2 separate regions of the Homo sapiens genome follow, and region 2 is linked to region 1. The links come from fine-mapping of genetic effects on gene expression. A gene starts in region 1. The other region holds a variant in brackets. All regions are shown on one strand. Distances are between the middles of the regions.

Region 1 (8,133 bases):
TGCAACCTCTGCCTCCTGGTCTCAAGTGATTCTCGTGCCTCAGCCTCCTGAGCAGCTGAGATTACAGGTGCGCGCCACCACACCCAGCTAATTTTTGTAGTTTTGGTACAGACAGGGTTTCACCATGTTGGCCAGGCTGGTCTCAAATTCCTGACCAAGTGATCCACCTGCCTCGGCTTCCCAAAATGCTGGGATTACAGGTGTGAGCCACCGTGCCCAGACTGAAGAGTGACATTTTTTAATCTCTTGTGCCTTACAGTTCAGGTGATTCTCACATTACTATTGTGCCCATTACACAGCTGAAAAAACTGAGGCCTGGAGATATCCTGGGAGGAAGAAATGGCAAAGGTAGCAAGGTACTCTGTGTCTCCTGGCTGAAAGGCCTAAGCATTTTCTCTGAAGGCCAGCTCAAGCCTCTAAGAAAGATTCTGCTCCCCAGATGTGAACCCCTCCCCCAGCTGGAGACCCCCATCACCATTCCCTGGGGGCAGAGGCATCCTTGGCTTTATCTTTTTGTCTGTACTTTAAATTATTTCTAATTTTAATCTAAACTGTGCCAGCTAAATGGTGTCAGCGCCCTGCAGTCACAGCTCTGAATCATCCCCCACCCCTGTCTCCCCCATCGCTACTACTGACACTAAGGTCTGGTGAGGGAGGGGCTGTCATGCAGGCTGAACAGGGCTGGGTACTGGGGGCTCTGTCTGGGCATCCCCCCTCCCTCAAGCTGCTTGGTCAAGGAGATGGGAAGGGGCAACAGACAGGCAGGAAATTGGGTTGGATACTGTCTGGGCTTTCTTTAGCCCCAGCTCCCAGGAGAATGGGAACCGTATAGCTGGGGGTGGTGACAACAAAAGACTTCACATGTGCTGTGTTCTCACTATGGGCCAAGATTGTGTTAAAGGACCTTTAACACAGGAACTTTTGTCCTCACTCTCTCCATTCTGCAGATAAGGACACTCAGCCTTGAGAGGCCTAGCTTGGGTCTCTTGCTCTTAACAGGCACAAGCAAGTATTGGAGCCCAAATAATTCTTGGGTACAGAGCCCGAGGTCTTGGTCACAACACTACAAACCCCAAGACTTGCCCTCTAGCCCTCTCCATGTGCACACCCACATCCTCATGGTCTCCCACACACTCACACACACACCCCCACACTGGGCTCTCACCTTCCCTCCCAGCACTGTCACCACACACCTTGTCACACCCCCTCCTGCCGCTAACACCCACGCCCAGGCACTCTCGGTTCCCCACAATCACAGTCACTCCCCAAGCATACACCGGCAGTTTCATAGACTGTGTCCCACCAGTCACACACTCCTACCGTGGCCACACACTCCCAGGCTTACCCCAGCACTGTCCCATCGCATAGCCCTCACACCACCCATCAGCCAGGTACAGCTGCCCAGACACCACCACACCTCTCTGTCACACACACACGCACACACACAACCACACATATCACACATGCACCATACAGCCTCCCTCTGCTGGCCTGCTCACCAAGCCCCAGCTCACTCCACAGCAGGAACGAGGAAACCCCAGGGATCAGTCCCCTCCCTTAGTGACCAGGTGGGCCTGGTCACAGAAACTCAGTGGCAGAGGGAGAGCCACACGTGAGTACACACACATACACACACTTATACAGATACACTCACACATGAGACTGGTGGGTAGGCACCCAACACCAGGGGCTTCCACAATTAACAGATCTAACGTACTCATGGCCAGTTGGTCACCATGATATACCCAGTGTGCAACACCGAAACCTCCAGACACACAGGGACACACACACTAGCAGGCAAGGACACACACACACACACACACACACACGAGTCTGGTGACAACAAACACACCAAGAATGGTACACACAGTTGCAAAAGACACACACAGAGCCTCAGGACACAAACAGACATACACACATACACACAAGCAAGTCACACATGCGAAAAAGGACACACATGCACAGGCAAGTCCCACAGTGACAGACAGCACAGAAGCTGACACAGACACACAACATACCCACACACCCAGATACCAGTGACTTAGCACAAGGAGACAGCTTCCACGCATACAGGGTAGGCGTCAGAGAAGGGGACCCCCCGCCCACTCACAGCAGATCCTTCTGACCAGGTTTAAGGCGGGGCTCGGTGGGGCTCTCCCCTGCCCCAAGAGAGAGGGAACTGGGGAAGTGGGAGCAGTTCCGATGGTGCTCTCCTTCTGCCGCTCCACCACCAGCCAGGAGGACCCCCCCCCCCGACCTCCTCCCCTCATCTGGTGGAGCCCCCACAACGGGAGTGGCATCTGGGTTGGGGGCGAGTACAGACCGTATCGGGCAGGGGCCACCCTGGGAGGGGTCTCAGAGGGGCGGAGGGGTGGGGTGGGAAGGGGGATGGTGGAGACTGGAGCCACGCCCAGCCCAGAGACGGATGAAGGGACCGAGAAAGACTCTTGAGACCGAAAGAAGAGACAGCGAGGAGGAGGCGCCGCGCGGGTCGGGCCTCCAGGGACCCAGGGGCGGGAGGCGAGGCCCGGCGGGCGGCCTGGCCTGGGCCCCGCGGTAGAGCGGAGAGGCGGCTGGACTGGCAGGGGGCGGCGAGCGTGGGCCGGGGGCGCGGCTCCGGGAGGACGGGATCGAGGGGGCGGCGGGCGGGGGTAGGGGTGTGGGTGGGGGTGGGGCGATGGAGCACGCGGAGGGCAAGGGACGGACGGATCGGGTGGCGAGGGACAGAAGGATCGGGTCTCGGAGAGGCGCGCAGGGGGAGAACACAGAGTGGGTGGCGACAGACGGACGGACACAGGGCCCGGGAGAGAGTCGGGAGGGACGGACGGGCCCCTCGGAGGAGCGGGAGACACACGGGCGGGTGGAGGGGCCGGGAGCGGGCAGACAGAAGGACCTCAGCCCCCACTGTCTAGCGGAGGGACACACAGACGGACAGGGGGACGGAGTCACCGGCAGGTCTCGGCGCGGCGGGACTTTCGCTGACCGCGGCTCAGTTTCTCAGTTTCGGAAACGGGAACTGGGGCGGGAAGGGGGAAGGAAGGGCGCCGCGCCCTCGGGGTAGCCCCGATCCCGCGCCCGGACCCGGCCCTCACTTACCTCCCGTTGCAGGGGCAGGCGCCAAGGGTCGCGGCGGCAGCGGCGGGGGCGCCGCTCCCCGGCGCGCGCGGACGGGGTTCGGCGCGGCGCTGACTGGGATGGGCCAAGCGGCCAGTGAGGTGTGGCCCGGGCCTCCGCGCGGCGGGCGGGCGCCGGGGGTCGCTCGGGAGATGTGGGCTACAGCCGCCTCGGGCTCCGGCGCCGCGGCACACGGAAGTGCGAGGGGGCGGGGCCGAGCGACCTCACCCAGGTGCCGCCGGCCCCGCCCCCGCCAGGCCCCGCCCCCGCCAGGCCTCGCCCTGCCAGGCCTCGCCCCGCCAGCTGCAATCGGGGACAGCGTCCCTCCGCCTCTGCCTGCGCGGGACACCGAGTCTCCCGGTCCCTCTGCCCTGCCTGGCCCTCTTCGCATCCTCCCGCCATTAGCGCGCAGCCAGCCCTCAGAAGGGGCCCATTTTACAGAGGAGGACGCTGAGGCCCGGTGGGGAGGCTCCCTCCGCCCGCTGGGGCCTGGGAGGGGCCGGCGGGGGTTCCCCCGCTCCCCACACCCACGCCCGGGACTCCCCACTGGCCAGCTGGCCCGCCTCTCCTGGCCCCACTCCTGCTCTTCCTGTTGGCTGGAGCTCGGACGCGGCCGGGCGCGGTGCCCGCCGCCAAGCCCGCTGTCCCGGCTCTGCCCCAAAGACTGAGCTGGTTAGACTCCAGGGTCGGAGGTTCTCGCTGGTCGGGCGCTGCACTGCTCCTCAGGCGGTTCTGGGAACTGCCCCTACTCGGACTGGCAGTTGCCCCTACCCCGATTGGCAGTCTTCTGCTTTCCTGCCCCCACCTTTGAGACCTCTCTATTGCTCCTGGCAGGCGCCTGAGCCTCCTTTCCAGACATGGAACTTGGTTGTCAGCCATAACTCCTTCATTCATTCATTCACTCATTCATCTATTCACCGAGTGTCCCCTAGGCTCAAAGTCTAGGGACCAGTTGGGGTTCTAGGGAGTCCATTCCCCTGTCCCCAGAGCTCAGAAAGCCAAGACATTAGCCTTATACTCATCCAAAGAAATGTCACTTCCCAGGAGACAAAAAAGAGGGTTCCAGGTCCTGGGGAACCACCTAGAAGGGATAGAGAAAGTCTAGACAGCTCTTCCCAGCTGAGACACAAGGGATGGAAGTGGGGGACAATCCCTGAGGTGGCCTGAGCTGAGAAAGGGGCTTGTGACAGAGACAGGCCATTGGACTTTGGTCTTCTCACAGAGCAATGAGAAGGTGGTGAAAGCTATTACAACCAGGCAGGATGACAGGCTCAAGGGGGCTCCTGCGGGATAGATGGGGCAGAGGGACAGCAGGGCAGAGGAGAGGCTGGATGGGGGACAGAAGGGCTGCCACGTTGTTCAGGTGGGAGGACCCTGGTTGAGATTGCGGAAGATGGATGGGGAGAAAAGGCCAGACCAGGTGGGTTCAAGGACTATCCTTTGGGAAAGACTTTCTCTTCACACCCAGGCCTTGAGCATGCTGTTCTCTGGGCCTGAATGCCATTTCCCACCCCACCCCCAAACCTCTACCTGCCCTGGTTGTGTCCATTCAAATGTCCCTCCTCCCTGATGCCCAGTTGTAATGCACGGCACTTCCCTGAGTGAAGGACCATATTCATTAGCATGTTCTGTGTCCTGATCCCATCCCACCCCACCCATCATGCCCCATGGCTTCCCTGGGGTTGGACTGGAGGAAAGGGTAAACAAGGTGAGCCTCAAGTGACCTTTGCCCACTTGGGATCGGGTTTCCTTCTGGCTCCTCCTTCAGGTCCACAGTAAGCCAACCCAGTCTCTCCCTCAACATAAACAATAGGCCCACCCTGTGCCAGGGACTGCAGCCAGAGGGAGGACTGACCCTTGAGGAGCTCCAGGTCCAGCCACCAGACCTTTGTTCCCACTCCGTGTGGTTCACCATGGAAGAAGGAAATGAATAATCATGGCTATCGCTGATAGGGGCTACCCAGCACCAGGCTGTGTGCTGGGTGCTGGATGTGGGCAGTCTGAACAGTTCTCAAGAGGTGAGGGCTGCTGTTAGTGCCAGTTTTGGTGATGAGCAAACTGAGGCTCAGAGAAAGGAGAAGCGACTTGCCCCAGAGTACACAGCTAGTCAGTGGCAGACGCAGATTCAGACCGAGGTCTGTCTGGCTCCAAAGCCCATAGTTTACATCAGGGATCTCAATTTCAGCACCACTGACCTTTGGGACAGATGATTCTTTGCTGTGGGGGCTGCCCTGTGCACTGTAAGGATGTTGAGCAGCATCCCTGGCCTCTGCCTAGTGGATGCCAATAGTACCTCCCTGCTTTAACTTGTGACAGACAAAAATGTCTCCAAACATTGCCAAATGTCTGCTGCAGGGCAAAATTACCCCTTGTTGAGAATCACTGCTTTGACATATACTGGTGTTACAGGAACAAGATTTACATTAGACAACAGGAAGCACTTTCCTGATCCTCAGGATATGCAGACTTGTGAGCTCAGGGGCTGCAAGCATACACTGGCTTCAGCCAATCTTTCTCCTCTAGAGAAAGGGGAAGTGCGATGTACTCAGAGAGGGTCAGAGGGGCTAAGGCTGTGCTAGCTATGCTGTGGCGAGGGCAGAGAAGGGATGAAGGTGGGCTTCCCTCCAGGCCTTAGGTCCAAGGGTTCCAGGGAGAATAGGTTTGCATGAGGTCCAGAGAATCCAGGCCAAGCTTGACTAGAACCACCCTGCATCTTGGAGCTGCTTCTGGGTGCCACACTGGTGGGCCAGGGCAGGGTCCAGATGAGCTGGTATCTGTGTCCCCATAATCTGCCTTGCATCAACAAGAAGGGCCTGCTGAAGCCTGAGAGCAAACCTTGGCTGTGTCACATGCCAACTGTATGACCCTGAGTAGGTGACCATGCCTCTCCCAGCTTCAGAGTTCTCACCTATGAAAAGGGCTGATGACAGACTCATGTCAGGAGTTGAATGAGGTGGTAAGAGTTAAATGAGATGATATATACAGAGCCTCGGCCAGGCTAGACACATTGCCCAGGGTTACAGCCTGGTCATGTGCCAAGTCACAGGCTGTCAGCCTTGAAAGAGGCTTCAATGGCCTCTCCTGACATGGGGCGTAAATCCCTGAGCAGGGCTAGACTCATAGCAGCTGCCTAGAGGTGATACTTTCCTCCTCCTCCAGGTTTGCAGCCAAGGAGATGGGCTAGGGTGGTGCCAGGCAGCTTCCAGACTCCCACCCACAGCATCCACCCAGGGCTGTTCCTTCTGTGGGCCTCCTGGAGGATTTATCCAGAGGAGAAGCAACTTGACCCCTGCCACCTCTGCCTCCTCCAAAGGCCATCAACCCTGGGAGGCCTCCAGACTCCTCCACTCCTGAAGTCCAAGACTCGGCCAAGCAACCTGGAAAAGGCCTCCCTCTGTCCCTGAGGCCCACACAGCTGAAGGCAAATGGGGTCCCTCACTTGATCCCTGCCAAGAGTTGGTCCTTGTCCTGGCATTTCTGCTTTTTGCACCTTCTCTCTGTTTCTGTCTCTCTGTGTCACCATCCTTGTCCCTGAAGCTTTGGTTGCCACGGCAATCCCCATCACACCCAGAGCACTGGCCTGGCCAAGAGAGAGTGGGCTTGTGTTTCTGGAGCAGGAGACACAGTCAACAGCGACAGTGCACCTGGGCAATTGCTGGGGGCAGCAGAGCCTGGGAGGTTCCCACTGGGGACAGTGTAGTAGGAAGGACACTTGGGACATGCCCATGCCTCAGGCCACCAAGACTGTCATCGACAGGAGTGTCAGCCTCAGGTACTAGGTTAAGGACAAGCAAGGACAGGCTGAGGGGGACAGTGGCCTTGTGGGTAGTGCTGCACAGCAGGGAAGTGCCAGCCCAGGGGCTGGTTCGCATCCTGGCTCTGCCCTGCACTGCAACTTAAATGTGCCTCAGCTTCCTCATCTGTGGAGTGGTGTTTGGTTAAGATCGACCTCCTGAGGCTGAGAGGATGGAAGAGTTCAAGTTCATCCCATGTTGGTGTTACCTGCCAGGCAGAGAGTTGGTGAGGCTGGGCTAATTGCCTCCATGTTCCTTCCTCAACACATTTGTGTTTGGGTGAAACCTGAGACATACTTGGGGGTAGACAAGGGGAAGGTGTGTCCTGGGAGTGCAGAACACAGGGCTTTCCTGTGGCTCTCCCAGGGGTGTGTACCCTGGACTGTCCCTTCTCTGCACTGACCATGGCACAGCCCCTGCCAGCCTGAGTCCCCTTCCCTGGCTCCTCTGCCCCTGCCCCCAAACATGTGTGTAGGTGGGGAGAAGGGGCACTGGTGTTGGGACAGTCATCAGCAAGAGCTATCCCCTCGCACGGAGTCCAGGGGACCTCCCAGCTCTCCTCCACCGCCCCCATCCCCGGCACCCATTTAGCTCTAATCTACGGGGTCCCTACTGGGAGGCTCATGGGGCTTAGCAGGGCAGGGAGGGCTATAAGCCTCACCTGCCTTTCCTTTCGCTCCCTGGCCTGAGGGTGCCTCAGCTCCCCGCTCCCACCTCTCAGCCCCTCATCCCCCACATCCTCAGAGGACAGCTCACCAAACCCAGCTTGGCCCATGGGAAACAGTGTAGGGGGTGGCCCTGAGCTGAAAGGCGGCTGCTCGAGGTTGGCAGGCTGGGAAGGACTGACTGCAGGCACAGCAGGGTCCCCCGCGCCGTGCACACACCTCCATACCCACCGCACAACCACGTACACGCCAGTCGGCGCGACCCCCGTGCACCAGCACAAAGTCCCCCGGGCCCCACCCTCCCGCCCCGCCCCGCCCCGCCCCGCCTCAGGGAAGCCTTTCCGAGCCGGGGGCGCAGACGCCCGCCCAGCCGCGTGACGCAAACCCCGCTATAAAACACCCGGCTCTATTCCCGGGTCCGGCAGCCACCTGGCTCCAGGCGCCGGGAGGCCCTTTCGCCTCCTCACCCTCTTTGTTCTCCAGGAAAGTCAGGAAGACCTGAGCTCGCCCATTCCTTGGATGGAGCAACTGAGGTCCTGGGTGTGAGGGTCGTCCAGGGC
Region 2 (8,133 bases), 21 kb before region 1:
GGTGGTCTGAAAGGCTCTGATTACAAACAGAAGTTTTGTAAACGGAACCCTACCTTCCCAACCACTCACTCGATAGATTTTATTTGACTATTTAGCTTCATTTCTGATTGATTCTAAAATTTTACCTTTAGGTTTTGTGGCATCCCTCAAGCCCCCCCCACATACAAACGTCCACACCCAAAGTCTTAGTTCAAAGTGTTCCAACACCCACTCCTGTGGTCCCCAGGTTCACCCTCAAGTAAAGAACTGCCTGAATAATGAATTTCTTATGAAAAAAAGCCCCCCTCCCTCTGCTGCCTAAATTCTTGAGTTGCATCTTCCCGAAGTAGAGTCCTGGGTCTAAATATATCCTGGCTGTCTGTGGCTCCCCAGCAGTGGCTGTAAGCCTTGACTGTCCCTGACCCCACTGCCCTGTGTCCAGGGTCCCCATGGCACCTGCCCACCTGGGTGACTTGGTTCAAGGCCTCAGCCAAAAGCTTCTGGTTGATGCCGCAGAGGTTGGCCACCTTCTCCCGGCATTTATGGTGCACATTCATGCCGCAGTCTGGGGTGAGGGAGAAGCGGGGCTGTCAGTCTCAGAGCTCAGCCAAGGGCAGGGGGCAGTGTAGGAGAGGCGCAGGAGAGCAAGAGAAAGGAGGGCTTCAGTGGGGTCTGCTGGGTTCCAGTTTCTAGGAAAACATTGATCTGAAGCCATCATAAATACTTCGATCTCTCTCTCTCTCTCTCTTTTTTTTTTTTTTTTGAGATGGAGTTTCCCTCTTATTGCCCAGGCTGGAGTGCAGTGGCGCAATCTCGGCTCACCGCAACCTCTGCCTCCTGGGTTCAAGGGATTCTCCTGCCTCAGCCTCCTGAGTAGCTGGGATTACAGGCATGCGCCACCATATCCGGCTAATTTTGTATTTTTAGTAGAGACGGGGTTTTTCCATGTTAGCCAGGCTGGTCTCGAACTCCCCACCTCAGGTGATCCACCTGCCTCGGCCTCCCAAAGTGCTGGGATTACAGGTGTGAGCCACCACGCCCGGCCAAGCATTTCAATCTTTCATGATTTTTGTTGTTGTTGTTGTTGTTGTTGTTGTTGTTGTTGAGACGGAGTCTCACTCTGTCACCCAGGCTGGAGTACAGTGACATGATTTCGGCTCACTGCAAGCTCTGCCTCCTGGGTTCACGCCATTCTCCTGCCTCAGCCTCCCGAGCAGCTGGGACTACAGGCGCCCGCCACCACGCCAGGCTAATTTTTTTGTATTTTTTTAGTAGAGACAGGGTTTCACCATGTTAGCCAGGATGGTCTCGATCTCCTAACCTCATGATCCGCCCGCCTCGGCCTCCCAAAGTGCTGGGATTACAGACGTGAGCCACCGCGCCCAGCCAATCTTTCATGATTTAAAGAAAAAGGAAAAACCAGAAGACAGGGACCTAATTCGAAACCCTTTAAAGAACATCTGGTCAACTTAAGCCGCTTTCCCTCCAGGGTCTTCTGTCTCATCTCTAAGTGAAGCAGAGGGCAGGGGAGGCCTGTCTGGGCGCCTGTCGGTGTGCACCAGGCCTGGCTTCAGCACCCTCTGCCCACTGGCCCCTCACAGGGACTCTCTAGGTCCTGCTTTTCTCCTCCAAATGGCTCAGAGGGGTGGAGCCGCCCACCTGTGGTCACACAGCAGGTAAGTGGCAGAGCCAGTCAGGCCAGTGGGGAGGGTCCACCAAGGCCTCACCCTCATCAGGTCCCTGAATGAGGTGCCCGTCTCCAGGTGAGGAGGCGAGGGTGGCGTGAGGTGGCTGGAATTCACAGCAGCACCAGCTGGGAGTGCCCCTCCTGCAGCCCAGGGGCGGGGTGGCACGCACCTTCACACTTTAATCCCTGCTTCACCAGTCCCCAGAGCAGGCTGCCGCAGTGGTCACAGAAGGTGGGGCTCATGTAGTTGTGAACCTTGAAGCGGTGCGGCATGTCGATGTTGAAGCGTTCTTTCTGGAACTGGAGGTGGGGGTATCACAGGCTGAGGGTCACGTGCCAGCTCCAGCCTCTTCTTCAACCCCTAGCTCTCCCCCAACCCTGGGCACAACAACATCCCAAGAGAGCTCCACTGGGAGAGGCAAGGAAAGACTAAGAAAAATGGGGAGGGAGGGTAAGCTCCCCAGGGAGGGTGGGGAGAGGGTGCAAATCCCTCCCATCTGGCCAAGCCCCCCAGATCCCCAGCCCTGCCCCGGACCCAGGCTCACTATAGTGTCCCGGCTGTTGGCCGCGGTGCCAGTGCATCTGCCGATGATCTTGTCGATGCATTTCTTGTGGATGGCAGCGTTACATTCTTGAAGAGGCACAGGCCCAGGAGGGGGAAGGGAAAGCACCGGGAGGGGCAGAGTCTATGAGCTGGTGCCTGCCGACCAGTCTAGCCCTCTACACAAAGCCACCGTTCTCCTGACCGCCCACACCCTCACCCCGCAGAGGCCCAGCGCTTGAGTCTTCCTCCTGCCAGCCCTCGAAGGAGGAGCCTGGAGAGGACGGGGCGGAGAGGACAGGCCAATCTGCAGGGGCTTAGAAAGAAGGAGTCCTAGTGGGCAGGGAGGTGGGCAGAAGTTAGCGGGCACAGGGCATCGCAATATGAGAAGCGGGGGCAGTTCTTCCAAGCCCTGGGATAGCAAACGGCTCCTAAATGCCCTCTCTTACACATGCACATGGACACGCCTCAAAACAGACACCTGTACATACACACAAAGCATGTGTAATAATGATAACAGACTTCTTACACAGAGCGGCTACCAGTGGAAGGCACTTAAAATACAGCTTTACATATCTTATTCCATTTGATCTTCACAATGACCCTATTATACATTATAGTTATATCTAATTTATAGATGAGGGCCAGGCACGATGGCTCACGCCTATAATCCCAGCACTTTGGGAGGCTGAGGTGGGTGAGTCACTTGAGGTCAGGAGTTTGAGACCAGCCTGGCCAACATGACAAAGCCCCTATTCTACTAAAAATACAAAAATTAGCCGGGCATGGTGGTGCACGCCTGTAATCCCAGCTACTCAGGAGGCTAAGGCAAGAGAATCGCTTGAACCTTGGAGAGGGAGGTTACAGTGAGCTGAGATCGCACAACTGCACTCTAGCTTGGGCAACAGAATGAGACTCAGTCTCAAAAAAAAAAAAATTATAGATGAGGAAACTGAGGCACAGAGAGGTTAAGTAACTTTGCCTAAGGCCCTATAGCTAGGAAGTGGTAGAGCTGGGATTCAAACCCAGGCAGTCTGACTCCAGCCTGCGGCGCCTCGTGTATACACCCTCAGGGACAGAGTGTGCTCACACCTGTGTACTCAGAGACACCCACATCTACACAGAAGCACATGCAGCCACTATGTGCCAGTAAAGGACCTATCATTGCCTCTCCGAGGAAAAGAGGCCTGGTGCATGGCCTGGGCTGGTTTCTGCGTGAATACTCTACTGTGCCCAATTGCCATCCACCAACTCCCCGTCACTGAATGCGGAGCTGGGAAGAGATGCGCAGAACTGGTTTTCCAGAGCAGCAGCAAGCCAGCCCCAGCACTCACTGAACTCAGCTGCTGTATCTACACTGGGAAAACTCACGTGCATACACTCTCTGAGCGCACACAGGCACTGGCATACACACAGGCACTGGCACA[C/T]GTGAGCACACATGGGTACATACGTACAAACTGGCCTGTGGAGACACTTACGCCTGCATTTGTAGCCTTGCTTGTTGAGGCCCCTGAAAGGCAAAACCCAGGCAAAGTGAGTGAGCGGGGACCGGGATCGGCCCCCACTACCCTGCACCACCACCAGTGGGCATGGCCGGTTCTCACCAGACAAAGTCTTTGCACACAGAACAGAAGGTGGGTTGCCCAAAGAAGGTGGCGATAAACTCATGGTTCTTGATGTAGTGGATTTTGGCCTGTTTGATGGCTCCGCGGCGGTTCATCGTTGGGAACTTGGCCTCGTCCTCACTGCGCATAGACTGTTTGCAATCTGGTGACCATGGAGTAGGGAAGTCAGCCCTGGTATCTGGAAGGGGTGGCACCCCTACAGTCCCTCCCAGGGTGGTCCTGGACAGCTCTGCCGAAGGGAGCAGCTTCCCTACACCTCAGTGCTGGCTCTGCCTCTGAACCCGGCAAGGGAGCCCTCCACCCCCAGGGAGTTCTTACCCACGTCCTCCAGGAAATACTGAACAGACATCAACACCTTGGCCTGAGGCTGCAGGTCCAGCTGTTGGGGGCCAGAGGCCAGGGGAGAACAAGGTCAGTGAGGGCAGCCTGGGCCAGGCCAAACTCAGAACCCACCCCCATGGCTGGTCCCCCAAGGCCAAGGCAGCCCCCCAAGGCCTAGCCAGACACTTGTCTGCCCAGTGTGGGCAGGGCCCCGCCTGAGCCCCACTCCTGAGCCCCACCCCCACCCTGTACCCAGGGGTATTATTACATTTAGGGAAGTGAAAGGGTCCAGCCCACACCCAGCCCAGACACATAGCTGGGGAATAGAGCGGGAAGGGAAATTCCCCACCCCTACCCGCTGCAGCTCCCTTAGCAAGGATCTTAGAATGGAGGCCCCTACCCGTGTGCACATGCGGAGAGAGACAGACACACAGACACACTCATCCTCGTGCACACACGCTGCTCCTCCCTCTGTGCCGAGGGCTCCTCATGCAGATTGGACAGTCTCGAGGGTGGGACCTGAGCCTCTATCCCCTCACCTCCCCCAAGACCTAGACCTGGTGACTGATATCCTCCCTTGGGGGAGCGGAGACAGCACAGCCAGAGGCCCCTCTGTGTCCCTGCCTGACTGGCCAAGGGTCAGTACAGCCCTGTGTTAACCTCTCTCCCATCCCAGCCCCCTCACCCCTCGCAGGAGGCTGATCAGAGCCTCCAATGGTCACAGGGCCTTTCCTGGTGGAGACATCTTGGTTACATCCCACATGTAACCCCAGGGGACTTCTGCCAGCACTGGCATCCTGTGGCCACCCAGAACACACAGCTGCACATGGCCAAGTGGCCACATGCTTGTGCAGAGTCTCCATTTCAGCAGGTAAGTAGATGAGACCGTCAGCCTCCCCTTCTCCCACCTCCTTGCTGTTAAAGATCACTATGTTGCCCCCTCAATGGCTGCCAAGGCCTAGAATATATGCGAAGATTCCAAAAAGAACTGGGATAATGGGTGCCTCTGGGAAGGAGGCCTGGTGGCCTGGTGTTGGGGCAGGGACACACCCTTTCATGCAGTTAAAAATGTTTTACTATGTGCATATCCTGCCTTTCCAAAATTAAAAAGGAAAAAGTAGTCACAATAAGGAAGTTGGCCGTCTTTAGCACCTGCTATGTGTCAGGTTCTGCAATAAGCCCTGTACATCCAGCTGCTCCTTTCATTTGAACAACTGACCCTGAGGTAGGCACATTTAGTAGCGCCTTCCCTTAACAGATGCGGAAGCAGAAGCTCAGAGAGGCTGGGAATCTGGTGAATTGCAGAGCCAGGATTCACACCCAGGACATGTTGGCCACAGGGCTGGACTGGTGGCCAGCACAGGGCCCGGTGCTCTTCAGCTGTGCTCACTGACCAAGCCCGCGTGTGTGCACGCACACACATGCACGCATGCACACACACACAGACACACACACACACACACACGGCACGGCTCGTGCGCCCCTTACCCAGAACTCAGCCTTGCCATTGTTCTTCTTGCAGCGCTCGGCCAGCACCGACACACCCACGGTCACCTCAGACACTGGCTCCTCTGCTGCCCGCATTAGCACAATCTGGATGACGCGCCCCTCATAGATGTGGGCATCGAACGTCGACTTCCACTCAGGATACATGGTCGGCTTCTTCTGCACCAGTGTTTTCCCACGCTCTGCAACAAGGCCAGGCAGAGAAGGTTGGGCCATGGCCCCTCTGTCCCTCCCTCGTAGACCTCCACGGCCTTCCCCTGGCAGAATCTGCCCGACTCTCCTGCCTTGAGGGCCTGCTGTGGTTCCCCAGTGTCCTCTAGAGCACAGAACTACCTTGGGCACCCTGCTAGGTCCTCCCTCCAGGCCTTTGTTCCTGCTGTTCCCTCTTCCTCTGATCCTCTTGCTCCAGCTCCATTTAAATGTCGCCTGCCCTTATGCATTCATGCAGGGAACATGGGCTGACAGCTCCTGCATGCCAGCCATAATATTCGAGGCGCAGAACACAGCTGAAAGAAAAGCTACATCCAGGGCCTGTCCTCCTGGATCCCCAGGCCCGGGTGGCGAATGCACCAACTCCTTCCTCAAGTAACTGTTAAGTCACAGTTGTGATGAGACTGAAGAGGGCAAGGCTGGTAGTGCTACAGGGTCAAGCCTAAGGGTCAGGGAAGATTTCCTAGAGGAAGGAACAGTTCAGCCGAGACCTGAGGGACAAATAGGGGTTCACCAGGCCAGGGCAAAAGCAAGAGGGAATGATGTGAGGTATGTGCTTCCTCCAGGAAGTCCTCCCTGACCTCAGGTTCAGAGGGTGCCTTCTCTGGGCTTCCCTATTGCAGGACTCACTGCTTTTTGACGTGCCTGGTTTCCCCACCTGACTATGAACCCCATGAGGGCAGGGCCAGGTTAGTCCTGGAGCATGACAGTATCCTCAGTGCCCCGCACAGGCCCTGGCACAAATGGACATGTAAAAATTGCTGGGTAAAACAACCAGGGAGGAGGAACCAGAAACTCCAAGCCTTCCAAGGAGGGCTCAATTTGGCCAGTGTTTGCAGCCCTATAGCGACTCAGTGGCCTCTGCCTTCATAGCTGAGTGGGGCAGGGAGTCAAGGATGAGGAAGAGCAGAATCCTTCAGAGGTTGCAGGGAACAAGGCCAGGCCCCCTCCAGTCCTTCCAGCTGGGCCCAGATTCCCAGCCCCTCTCCAGGGTCCAGCCTCCAGGCCTACCTGTGCTGAGCGCCTCCTTCATCTTCACGGCACAGAAGGGCTGGTTCGCCTCGTCCTCGGCCTGCAGGGAGCCCAGCTCATAGGAGTTGAAGGCGATGCGCAGGAACGGCGCCATGGTGGGGCCTGCAGTGGGGCTGTGCACACAGAGGGGTGAGGCCAGGCGGCCGGGCGGGACCAGCGGGAACAGTCACGGGCAGCACTCAGGGACCCGCTCCCCCAGGGCTCTGCTATGATTGGGTTTGGCCCACATGATGCACACACACACTAGTCTCAGTTGCCAGTGTTAAAAACTGAGAGGTTTGCCAGGCGCAGTGGCTGACGCCTGTAATCCCAGCACTTTGGGAGGCCAAGGTAGGCAGATGGCCTGAGGTCAGGAGTTTGAGACCAGCCTGACCAACATGGTGAAAAGCCATCTCTACTAAAAATTAGCTGGGTGTGGTGGTGCATGCCTGTAATTCCAGCTACTCGGGAGGCTGAGGCAGGAGAATCACTTGAACCCGGGAGGCGGAGGTTGCAGTGAGCCAAGATCGCACCAGTACACTCCAGCCTGGGTGACAAGAGCCAAACTCCGTCTCAAAAAAAAAAAAAAAAGAAAAAGAAAAAGAAAAATATTGAGAGGTTTATGTAAGTCTGGATTTGCGGCGTCTCTGGTAAAACTGGAAAATGTGATGTTGGGCCCACTGGGCAACAGCCAGCTAGCACTGGGATGGCTGCCCTCCATCAATCTACCCCAGGCCAGGGGCACTCTCTTCACTCCTCCTACCTGGGCCCTGGTGGCATTTGCATCTGTCACCCCTAGATATTCATTTGGGGAGTCACTCAGTGACTCCCTAAGTACCCTATTGCTGGGTACCTGCTCCATGCCAGGCACCTGGTATGTGCCATTGTCACCTGGTAAGGGGACAGGACAGTACTGCCTCTTTCTCCCATCCTGCCCCATGCAGCCCTTCATGATTTTCTAAGTTTGGGGTTTTTTCTTCATAACTACCCAGGCAGACAAGCAGTGCCAAGATAAACACCCCCCACTTTTCAGATGGGGAAACTGAAACCCTAAGGCAGAGAATCAGAACCAAAAGCTGACATTCCACTAACTTGGCACCCACTCTGTTCAGGGATCAGGGCAGTGAGAGGCTCTGCCCACATCAGTGTGCCTGACCCTTCTAAATTGACCCCTTGGGGTCGAGTGCCTCTCGCTTGCCTGGAAGGTTGCCTGCACCTTCAAACTAATTATTTCCCCAAATATAAAACAGGTG

What was found. PIP is the estimated chance that this variant, and not a neighbour inherited with it, causes the effect.
Region 2: its variant is the best candidate, but not a certain one, in a credible set for the expression of PRKCD in whole blood (INTERVAL, PIP 0.51).

The regions. Positions count from the first base shown.
Region 1 is chr3:53,156,392-53,164,524 of GRCh38, reverse strand. It overlaps PRKCD (protein kinase C delta), which reads right to left and starts at 3,316. Exons shown (of 19, transcript NM_006254.4): 1 at 3,097-3,316. RefSeq lists silencers at 2,365-2,594, 2,865-3,814 and enhancers at 5,469-5,548, 7,545-8,045.
Region 2 is chr3:53,177,285-53,185,417 of GRCh38, reverse strand. PRKCD (protein kinase C delta) reads right to left here. Exons shown (of 19, transcript NM_006254.4): 3 at 6,881-7,014; 4 at 5,642-5,841; 5 at 4,151-4,211; 6 at 3,812-3,974; 7 at 3,686-3,717; 8 at 2,212-2,297; 9 at 1,837-1,966; 10 at 444-544. The coding sequence starts at 6,995. Among named protein-coding and RNA genes, the nearest start is that of PRKCD, 20 kb to the right of the region's middle. RefSeq lists enhancers at 4,037-4,196, 4,457-4,506. The variant C/T (reference allele first, on the strand shown) is at 3,635.